Homo sapiens: one gene and its partner. The protein of the gene in region 1 purifies or fractionates together with the protein of each later gene. This does not show direct contact. Each region holds a gene or a part of one and is shown on either strand. Other genes may lie near its edges. The genes, in order: KHDRBS3 and KCMF1.

Region 1 (3,820 bases):
TTCTTATTTAGTTATATTTGTGTTTGCCTCTAATGCAACTGTGTTTTCAGCAGTTATTCACATTGGAGTTGGTATTTCAGCACTAAATTGTAGAATGGGCCAGCATGGCAAACCTTAGCGTGCCATGTAATAGATATGTTTTATGGTATCTCTAAACTCTAACAAGGCCTTACATTTGCATAGTATTTTAAAGTTTCCAAGGCACTAGTTTTGTCCTCACACTTGCATTCCGGTAAGGCAGATGTTCATGTCTTCTCTTTTCAGGAAGGCAGCTGAGGATCCCAGCTATCTAAGCTTTTGGGCAACTGAGATTTAATTTGAAATCTCAGGTCTTCTGTCTCTGAAGAGGTTGTTCTTTCTTATTTTGGCTTCCTAAAATGTTGGAATGAAATACTTCTCACTTGCTAACTTCAGACCCTGCAGAAATCAATATAATTAGTATGATTGTTTCCAACTGACTTAAATGTGTAGGAAATAGTATATATCCTTTAGGAAGTTTATCCTGATTTTTACAGAAAGTTTCTGTCTGCACTTGCCTTCTTTGAAGAAGCAAACATTCACGGTAGATTTATCTTCCAGGATTTTGATGCTGAGGCCAAGAGGCAGTTTTGAATTAAAGCCCTCCTGTGACTAGTGTATTAGTTTAATAATCAATGCATTATGATAATGAAGCAGTTTATAGATGAGGTGTAGTCGTTCTTTAAAAATTCAGTGTTCGTAAAGATTGATCAACTTCCTAACTGAATTACTCTTTTTCTTTCTTGAGCTAGGATGACAATAAGAGATATACTCCTGTCTGGTATACATTGGCTTTTATATTTTTCCAGACTTGTGTTTCATCGTGGGCACTGATTGCTGATTTTATTTTCATTTTACCAGAATAACTGGTTCTCCTCCTCCACCTCCTAAATGAATTTGTTTCCCGAATATTTATTTATTTATTTTTTTGAGACGAAGTTGCCCAGGCTCTGTTGCCCAGGCTAGAGTGCAGTGACACAATCTAGGCTCACCGTAACCTCTGCCTTCTGGGTTTGCGCGATTCTCCCGCCTCAGCCTCCCGAGTAGCTGGGACTGCAGGTGTGCGCCACCATGCCTGGTTAATTTTTGTATTTTTAGTAGAGACGGGGTTTCACTGTGTTGGCCAGGCTGGTCTCGAACTCCTGACCTCGTGATCTGCCTGCCTCAGCCTCCCAAAGTGCTGGGATTACAGGTGTGAGCCACCGTGCCTGGCCTCTGAATTTGTTTCTCTAACAAAATTAGTGGTTAATGTTTATTTGATGTTAAAAGTCAGTCAAAGAAAATAGGCTTTGGGATCCCACTCCGGACCCCGCCTTGGTGCCTGTAGGGTGAATTGACATTGCAATTCTTGCCAAGGAGAGGTTAATTGCAGATGAAAGTGGTGTTGCATGTTTTATATTTGCTAGTAGGGGATGTGCTGACTCTTACTAAAAAACATCTTTAGAAATGTCTTATGCATTATAATTTAATCCAAGTCTCTGATATTGGTTTGGATGGTTTTCAATACAAGCCAAGTAACCATTAAATAAGATTACATAACACTGTATTTTTAATTATCTGATATAATGTATGGATTGGTGGCTGGCTCACTGCCAAGTTACATTTAGTTGTCGTTGATTACAAGAGAAAGTGGAGCTGAGGATTCAAGATTAAGGTGGTCCAGATTTGTGTCTAGGTTGATAAAAGTTTTTTGTTTGTATATCAAAATGGTTTTTATATCAGTTTCTCAAATATTACAATTCTTAGCATTACTTAGAATAAATATGGAGGATAAAAATATATTAAGGAAGGATTATTATTTTATGTACATCTCTTTGTAATCCACAAAACCCAGGGGCTTAAAACTTGATTTTTGGGGACCCCTTTTGGAAAACATTTCGGATTTGCTTGAATGTCACAGACTTGTAAAGTAGAGAGTAAGAATGAGAACTGCAGAACTGTATTTAGGTATGGTGCCTTCATGCTATAGTTTGTGATTTTCTGTTTCATCCAAAGGAGGATGTGATTATTTAGTTTTTAGTTTTTTATTGTTTTTCTTTGTGTTATCAGTTTTTTTTTTTTTTTAAGAAAATGCGATCACTCACAGTGTTAGATATGCCATTTCTGAGTTTTATACAGTGTATTATGATTAAAAGTGACCCAGTGATTGTGAGTTACAGGGTTTTGGTATTGGACATTAGTAACAGGCTTATAGAGAACCTGCCATGCTGGTTCTCTGTGTTGGGTCCCAGGGGTAGGGAGGAAAAACAGTCTGCACTGGTGAGAAGCTCCTGCTCTCCTCTGTGTGCGTTTGAGAATGAATTTTCGGTTTGTAGATGCCCTCTTTCCTAAGGAACATCTTAGTCCTTCAACTATGCTGAAATATTTAATGATTGGATGGCTTAGATTTACTGTTAATAAATCAGCTTGTGGACATTTTTGAGGCACTTGTTGGTACTGGGTCATGTTTGTAATCTCGATACTGGTAACAGCTCAGAGATGGAGAGGTTATTAGCCTAGTTTTTCAGTTGTAGAAACCAAGATTCTGACAGCTAAAGTGACTTGCCCATGGTGACATGCTTATAATAAAATGTCAGAGTGAAGGGTCAAGCTTTGTTCTTTTACAGGTCCATTGTTCTTTTTACCATGTCCTACTGACTCTCAGTAACACTGAGAGTCTAAAGGGCTAAGTTACTGGCCAACCTGTGATGGTATAATTAGTGAATGATAGAAGGAGAATCAAAACCCTGGCTTTTTTATGTGCAGTTTGTTTTTCCTCTAGCCTGTGCTGAATTGAAAGATAAATTATATAGCATCCATTTTCATACTTCATTCTTCACATTTCTGCCCTAAGATAAGTCCTCTGACCTTTTTCAAAATGGGTTGGATTGCCTGTTTTCTGGTGTCACATAACACCTGGTGCTCTTACGGTGTGATCCTCATCACACTGCTTTGTTTGGATCTTTGTCTTTCTTGGTAAAGAGTGAGTTCCTCGGAAGACAGGGCCTGGTCTTTCCTCTGTATCTTCAGCACCTAGCATACGTCTGAGCACAGGGCCCTTGGGAACTCCTGTCTTCATTTCAGTGTTACGTGTTAATTATCATTAAGGGTAGCAGAATCAGAAAGTATATTTGGAATTTAGCAGTCAGTAAAGAGCTTTGCTTCTTACAGCTTTAGAGGACCTGAATTGGAGGTGGGGATGAAGTCAACAGTTCTGCCCATATCAATGAAAGAAGGTTCTGAGTGAAATGCAGGGTTGAACAAGCAGAAAAGCATCCCAGTGCTCTTTAAATGTGGTTGCACAGTAGGGATCCTTCTCTAGGAGATAATGAGAAGATGTTGTCAGATCTGCTTTGAATCAGATGTTTATTTACTTTTATTCTTTCTTAAGGAATTTATGAAATCACTGCACTCTCATCAATTTGCTCTCCTTCTCTAAACTCCTAATGATATTTCTCATGACAGATTAAAAACAGAATTTTGGAAGCCCTAGTCACATGCCAAATAAGGTTTCTTACCTGAGAGAGTTATCCGCAGTTTCAGATGCCAAAGGGAAACTCCGAAAGCCAGAGGAGCGATTGAAACCGCAAATTGAGTGCCAACAGCAACTTTGATATCAAAAGCCCCATTTGCCTGTTGTCACCAGTCCCGCTGAGTGAAGATAGAATGACTTATATCTTCTACCAAAACAATAGAAGGAGAGTGTTCCTTGGCGTTGGGGATGATGATTATAAAAGCCACCAATTTGAGGCTCTTCCGTGCCAGCTGCTTTCTGTGCATTCTCTCCCATCCCCGCAAGATCTTGCAAGGTAGGAGGTTTTAT
Region 2 (3,820 bases), on another chromosome or scaffold:
TGGCTAATTTTTTGTATTTTTAGTAGAGACGGGGTTTCACTGTGTTAGCCAGGATGGTCTCGATCTCCTGACCTCATGAGCCGCCCGCCTCGGCCTCCCAAAGTGCTGGGATTACAGGCGTGAGCCACCGCGCCCGGCCAATACTGTATGTATTCTTTGAAATTTCCTTTCACTCATCTGAGGCAGATGTTCTTACCGTTGCTGTGATTCATTCTTTTTCCAATTCATTCTGTGCATATTGAACTGTTGAGCCTTTGAATCTGAATAGCCTTTTTTTTTTTTTTTTTGAGACGGAGTCTCGCACTTTCTCGCCCAGGCTGGAGTGCAGTGGCGCGATCTCAGCTCACTGCAAGCTCCGCCTCCTGGGTTCACGCCATTCTCCTGCCTCAGCTTCCTGAGTAGCTGGGACTACAGGCGCCCGCCACCACGCCTGGCTAATTTTTTTTTGTATTTTTAGTAGAGACGGGGTTTCACCGTGTTAGCCAGGATGGTGTCGATCTACTGACCTTGTGATCCGCCCGCCTCGGTCTCCCAAAGTGCTGGGATTACAGGCGTGAGCCACCGCGCCCAGCCCCTGAGTAGCCTTTTTAAAATTCAGTTACAAAAACTGCCGTCAACATTCTTCCACATTCTCTAGGTGCACACAGACAAAAGATTCCCTCCCCGGGAATTTATTTAAGAGTGAAATTACGGTATCATAGGAGGTATATGTGTTTAACTTGACTAAAAATATGAACAAATTTTTCAAAGTGGTTGTGCTGATTTACACTCCTACCAGCAGGGTATAAGCACTTCTGCTGCCCTTTATCTTCACTAACACTTGATATCATGAAACTTGTAGTTTCTTACCGGTTTGGTAAATGTAAAATGCTAGCTCACGGATGTTAATCATGCACTTCTTTGATGACTAATGAGATTGAGCATCTTTTCATATGTTTACTGGCCATTTATGTTTGTTGTTCTTTGAGTGCCCTTTGACAGGTTTCTCCATTTTTCTACTAAGCATTCATCATTTACTTACTGATATGTAAGAGTTCATAATGCATTCTGAATACCAAACTTTTGTCTGTCATGTATGTTGTACATATCGCCAGTTTCTGAACCTTATATTTTCAATCAATGTAGGCTGTGAAAAGACGAAGAAAAAGGCCGAGCGTGGTGGCTCACGCCTGTTGTAATTCCAGCACTTTGGGAGGCCCAGGCGGGCAGATCACCCGGAGTTCGAGACCAGCCTGGCCAACGTGGTGAAACCCCGTCTCTACTAAAAATACAAAAATTAGCTGGGCATGGTGCCAGGCGCCTATGATCCCAACTCCTTGGGAGGCTGAGGCAGGAGAATTGCTTGAACCCAGGAGGCGGAGGTTGCAGTGAGCCAAGATCTCACCATTGCACTCCAGCCCCGGCGACAGAGTGAGACTCTATCTCAAAAGAATAAAACAAAAACAAAAGATGAAGAAAAAGTCTTAACGTAGTTGGACTTATCTCTTACTTTTTGATTTGGAGAGTGAGAGAGAGAGAGAGAGAGAGAGAGAGAGAGTGTGTGTGTGTGTGTGTGTGTGCGCGTGTGTGTGTGAGAAAGAGAAAGATTTAAGAAATTGTTTTCTACTTTAGACTCATAAAAATATTCTATATTGTCTTCTAGAGATATTTTTCATTGTTCTTTTGAATCCGTCTTTAAACCATGTGGAATTGATTTTTTGTGTGTATAGGATATGGGGAGAGATCCAATTCTGTTTTCCCCACATGCAGATAATCACCTGTTCAGCACCATTTATTGTCCATTCCCTTTTTTTCTCAGTGCTCTTTAGTGACCTTGCTGTTGTAAAACAGATTTCAACATCTGTTTCTGGTCTTTCCGTTCTATTCCATGGGCCAGTTTGTCTCTACCCTGGTGCCATTCCATCTTACTGTAGTTATTATAGGTTTATTATTTGTTATGGTGTTACTTATTATTTATTAGTTTAGCTCTTGATATATAAAACAAGTCCCTCTATCTCATTTTTCTTGGGAGCATCTTGACTCTCCTTGGCCCTTTTTGTAACTTGCATCAACATTTGAGTCAGCTTACCATGCCCCACAAAAAAATTCTTTTTAAATTTTGGTTATTAATTGTATTGAATCCACAAATCTGTTGACATTTTATTATGAACCTTCCAGTCCATGAAGTTGGTATTTATATTTTTTAAAGTCCTTTAGTGTCTTTGAATACATTTTTACTAATTTGCTTCATAAAGGGCTGCCTATCTTTGGTTAGATTTATTCATAGGCACTTTTTTAAAATGCTGTTGCAAATGGCTTATTTTTTTATTGCAGTAAAATATACATAGCATAAAATTTATTTTAACCCCTTTTAGGTGTACAGTTCAGTAGCATTAAGTATATTCACATTCTTGGAACCATCACCACTGTCCATCTCCAGAATTCTTCCATTATCCCAAACTTGAAAACTCTCTACCCACTAAACCGTAACTCCCCGTTCTCCCTTTCCTCAAGCTTCTGGCAACCACTGTTCTACTTTCCTTCTCTTTGAATTTGGCACATCTCGATGGAATCACAAATGACATTTTTTTGGTTTTTTGAGATAGGAGTCCCGCTCTGTCACCCAGGCTGGAGTGCAGTGGCGCAACCTCAGCTTACTGCAACCTCTGCCTCCTGGGTTCAAGTGATTCTCTTCCCTCAGCCACCCGAGTAGCTGAGATTACAGGCACACACCACCATGCCTCACTAATTTTTTTGTAATAAATGACATATTTTTAATAATATGTTTTTCTGTCTGTTTTGCAGTGAAGAAATACAATCAGTACTTTATTTAGGAGGTCTCTATCTAACAGCTTTGCTTACTGCTTCTAATAACTTAGCTGTATTTGGGTTTTCAGCATAAACAAGCAGATCACATGTGAATAAAACTATGAAACCCACCTACAGAATTTTAAATTTTAACTTTTTTAAAAATATTTTTTAAAGACAGAGTCTCACTCTGTCGCCTAGGCTGGAGTGCAGTGGCATGATCTCGGCTCACTGCAACCTCCGTCTCCTGAGTTCAAGCCATTCTTCTGCTTCAGCCTCCCAAGTAGCTGAGATTACAGGCGCCCACCACCACGCCCGGCTAATTTTTGTATGTTTAGTAGAGATGGGGTTTCACCAGGTTGGTCAGGGTGGTCTTGAACTCCTGACCTCAGGTGATCCGCCCACCTCAGTCTCCCAAAGTGCTGAGATTACAGGCGTGAGCCACTGCGCCTGGCATATTTTAACTTTTTTTTTTTTAAACAAATACAAATGAGATCTCTCTATGTTGCCTTGGCTGGTCTTGAACTCCTGGCCTCAAGCAGCCCTCTTGTCTTAGCCTCCCAAAGTGTTGGAATTACAGGTGTGAGCTATGGCACCCAGCCCTGTTCAAGCTTCTTTCTTTCCTTTATTATTATTATTATTATTATTATTATTATTATTATTTTTATTTTTTCCAGACAGGGTCTTGTTCTGTTCCCAAGCTGGAGTGCAGTAGTTTGATCATGGTCACTGCAGCTTCGAGCTCCTGGGCTCAAGCATTCCTCCCACCTCAACCTTCCAAGTAGCTAAGGCTACAGGCACAGGCCACAATGCCCAGCTAATTTTTAAATTTTTTTGTAGACAGGATCTCTCTATGTTGCCCAGGCTGGTCTTGAACTCCTGGCCTCAAGCCATCCCCCTGCCTCGCCTTGCCAAAGTGCTTGGGATTATAGGTGTTAGCCACCACACCCAGTTATTTCTTTTAACAGGTCAAGAATTATTTGATGCCCCAATTCTGATATGAACTCATGACTGATTCTGCTGCTCCTGCTAG

Evidence for each region.
Region 2: the proteins of KHDRBS3 (region 1) and KCMF1 purify together in Homo sapiens (co-immunoprecipitation; one large-scale study listed by IntAct). This does not show direct contact.

The regions. Positions count from the first base shown.
Region 1 is NC_000008.11:135,460,171-135,463,990, forward strand, and holds part of KHDRBS3 (KH domain-containing, RNA-binding, signal transduction-associated protein 3), read left to right. Parts: intron 1-3,462; exon of another isoform or gene 3,463-3,718; coding exon of another isoform or gene 3,719-3,806; intron 3,807-3,820. UniProt on the Homo sapiens protein: RNA-binding protein that plays a role in the regulation of alternative splicing and influences mRNA splice site selection and exon inclusion. Binds preferentially to the 5'-[AU]UAAA-3' motif in vitro.
Region 2 is NC_000002.12:85,023,048-85,026,867, forward strand, and holds part of KCMF1 (E3 ubiquitin-protein ligase KCMF1), read left to right. Parts: intron 1-3,820. UniProt on the Homo sapiens protein: E3 ubiquitin-protein ligase which accepts ubiquitin from an E2 ubiquitin-conjugating enzyme and then transfers it to targeted substrates, promoting their degradation by the proteasome.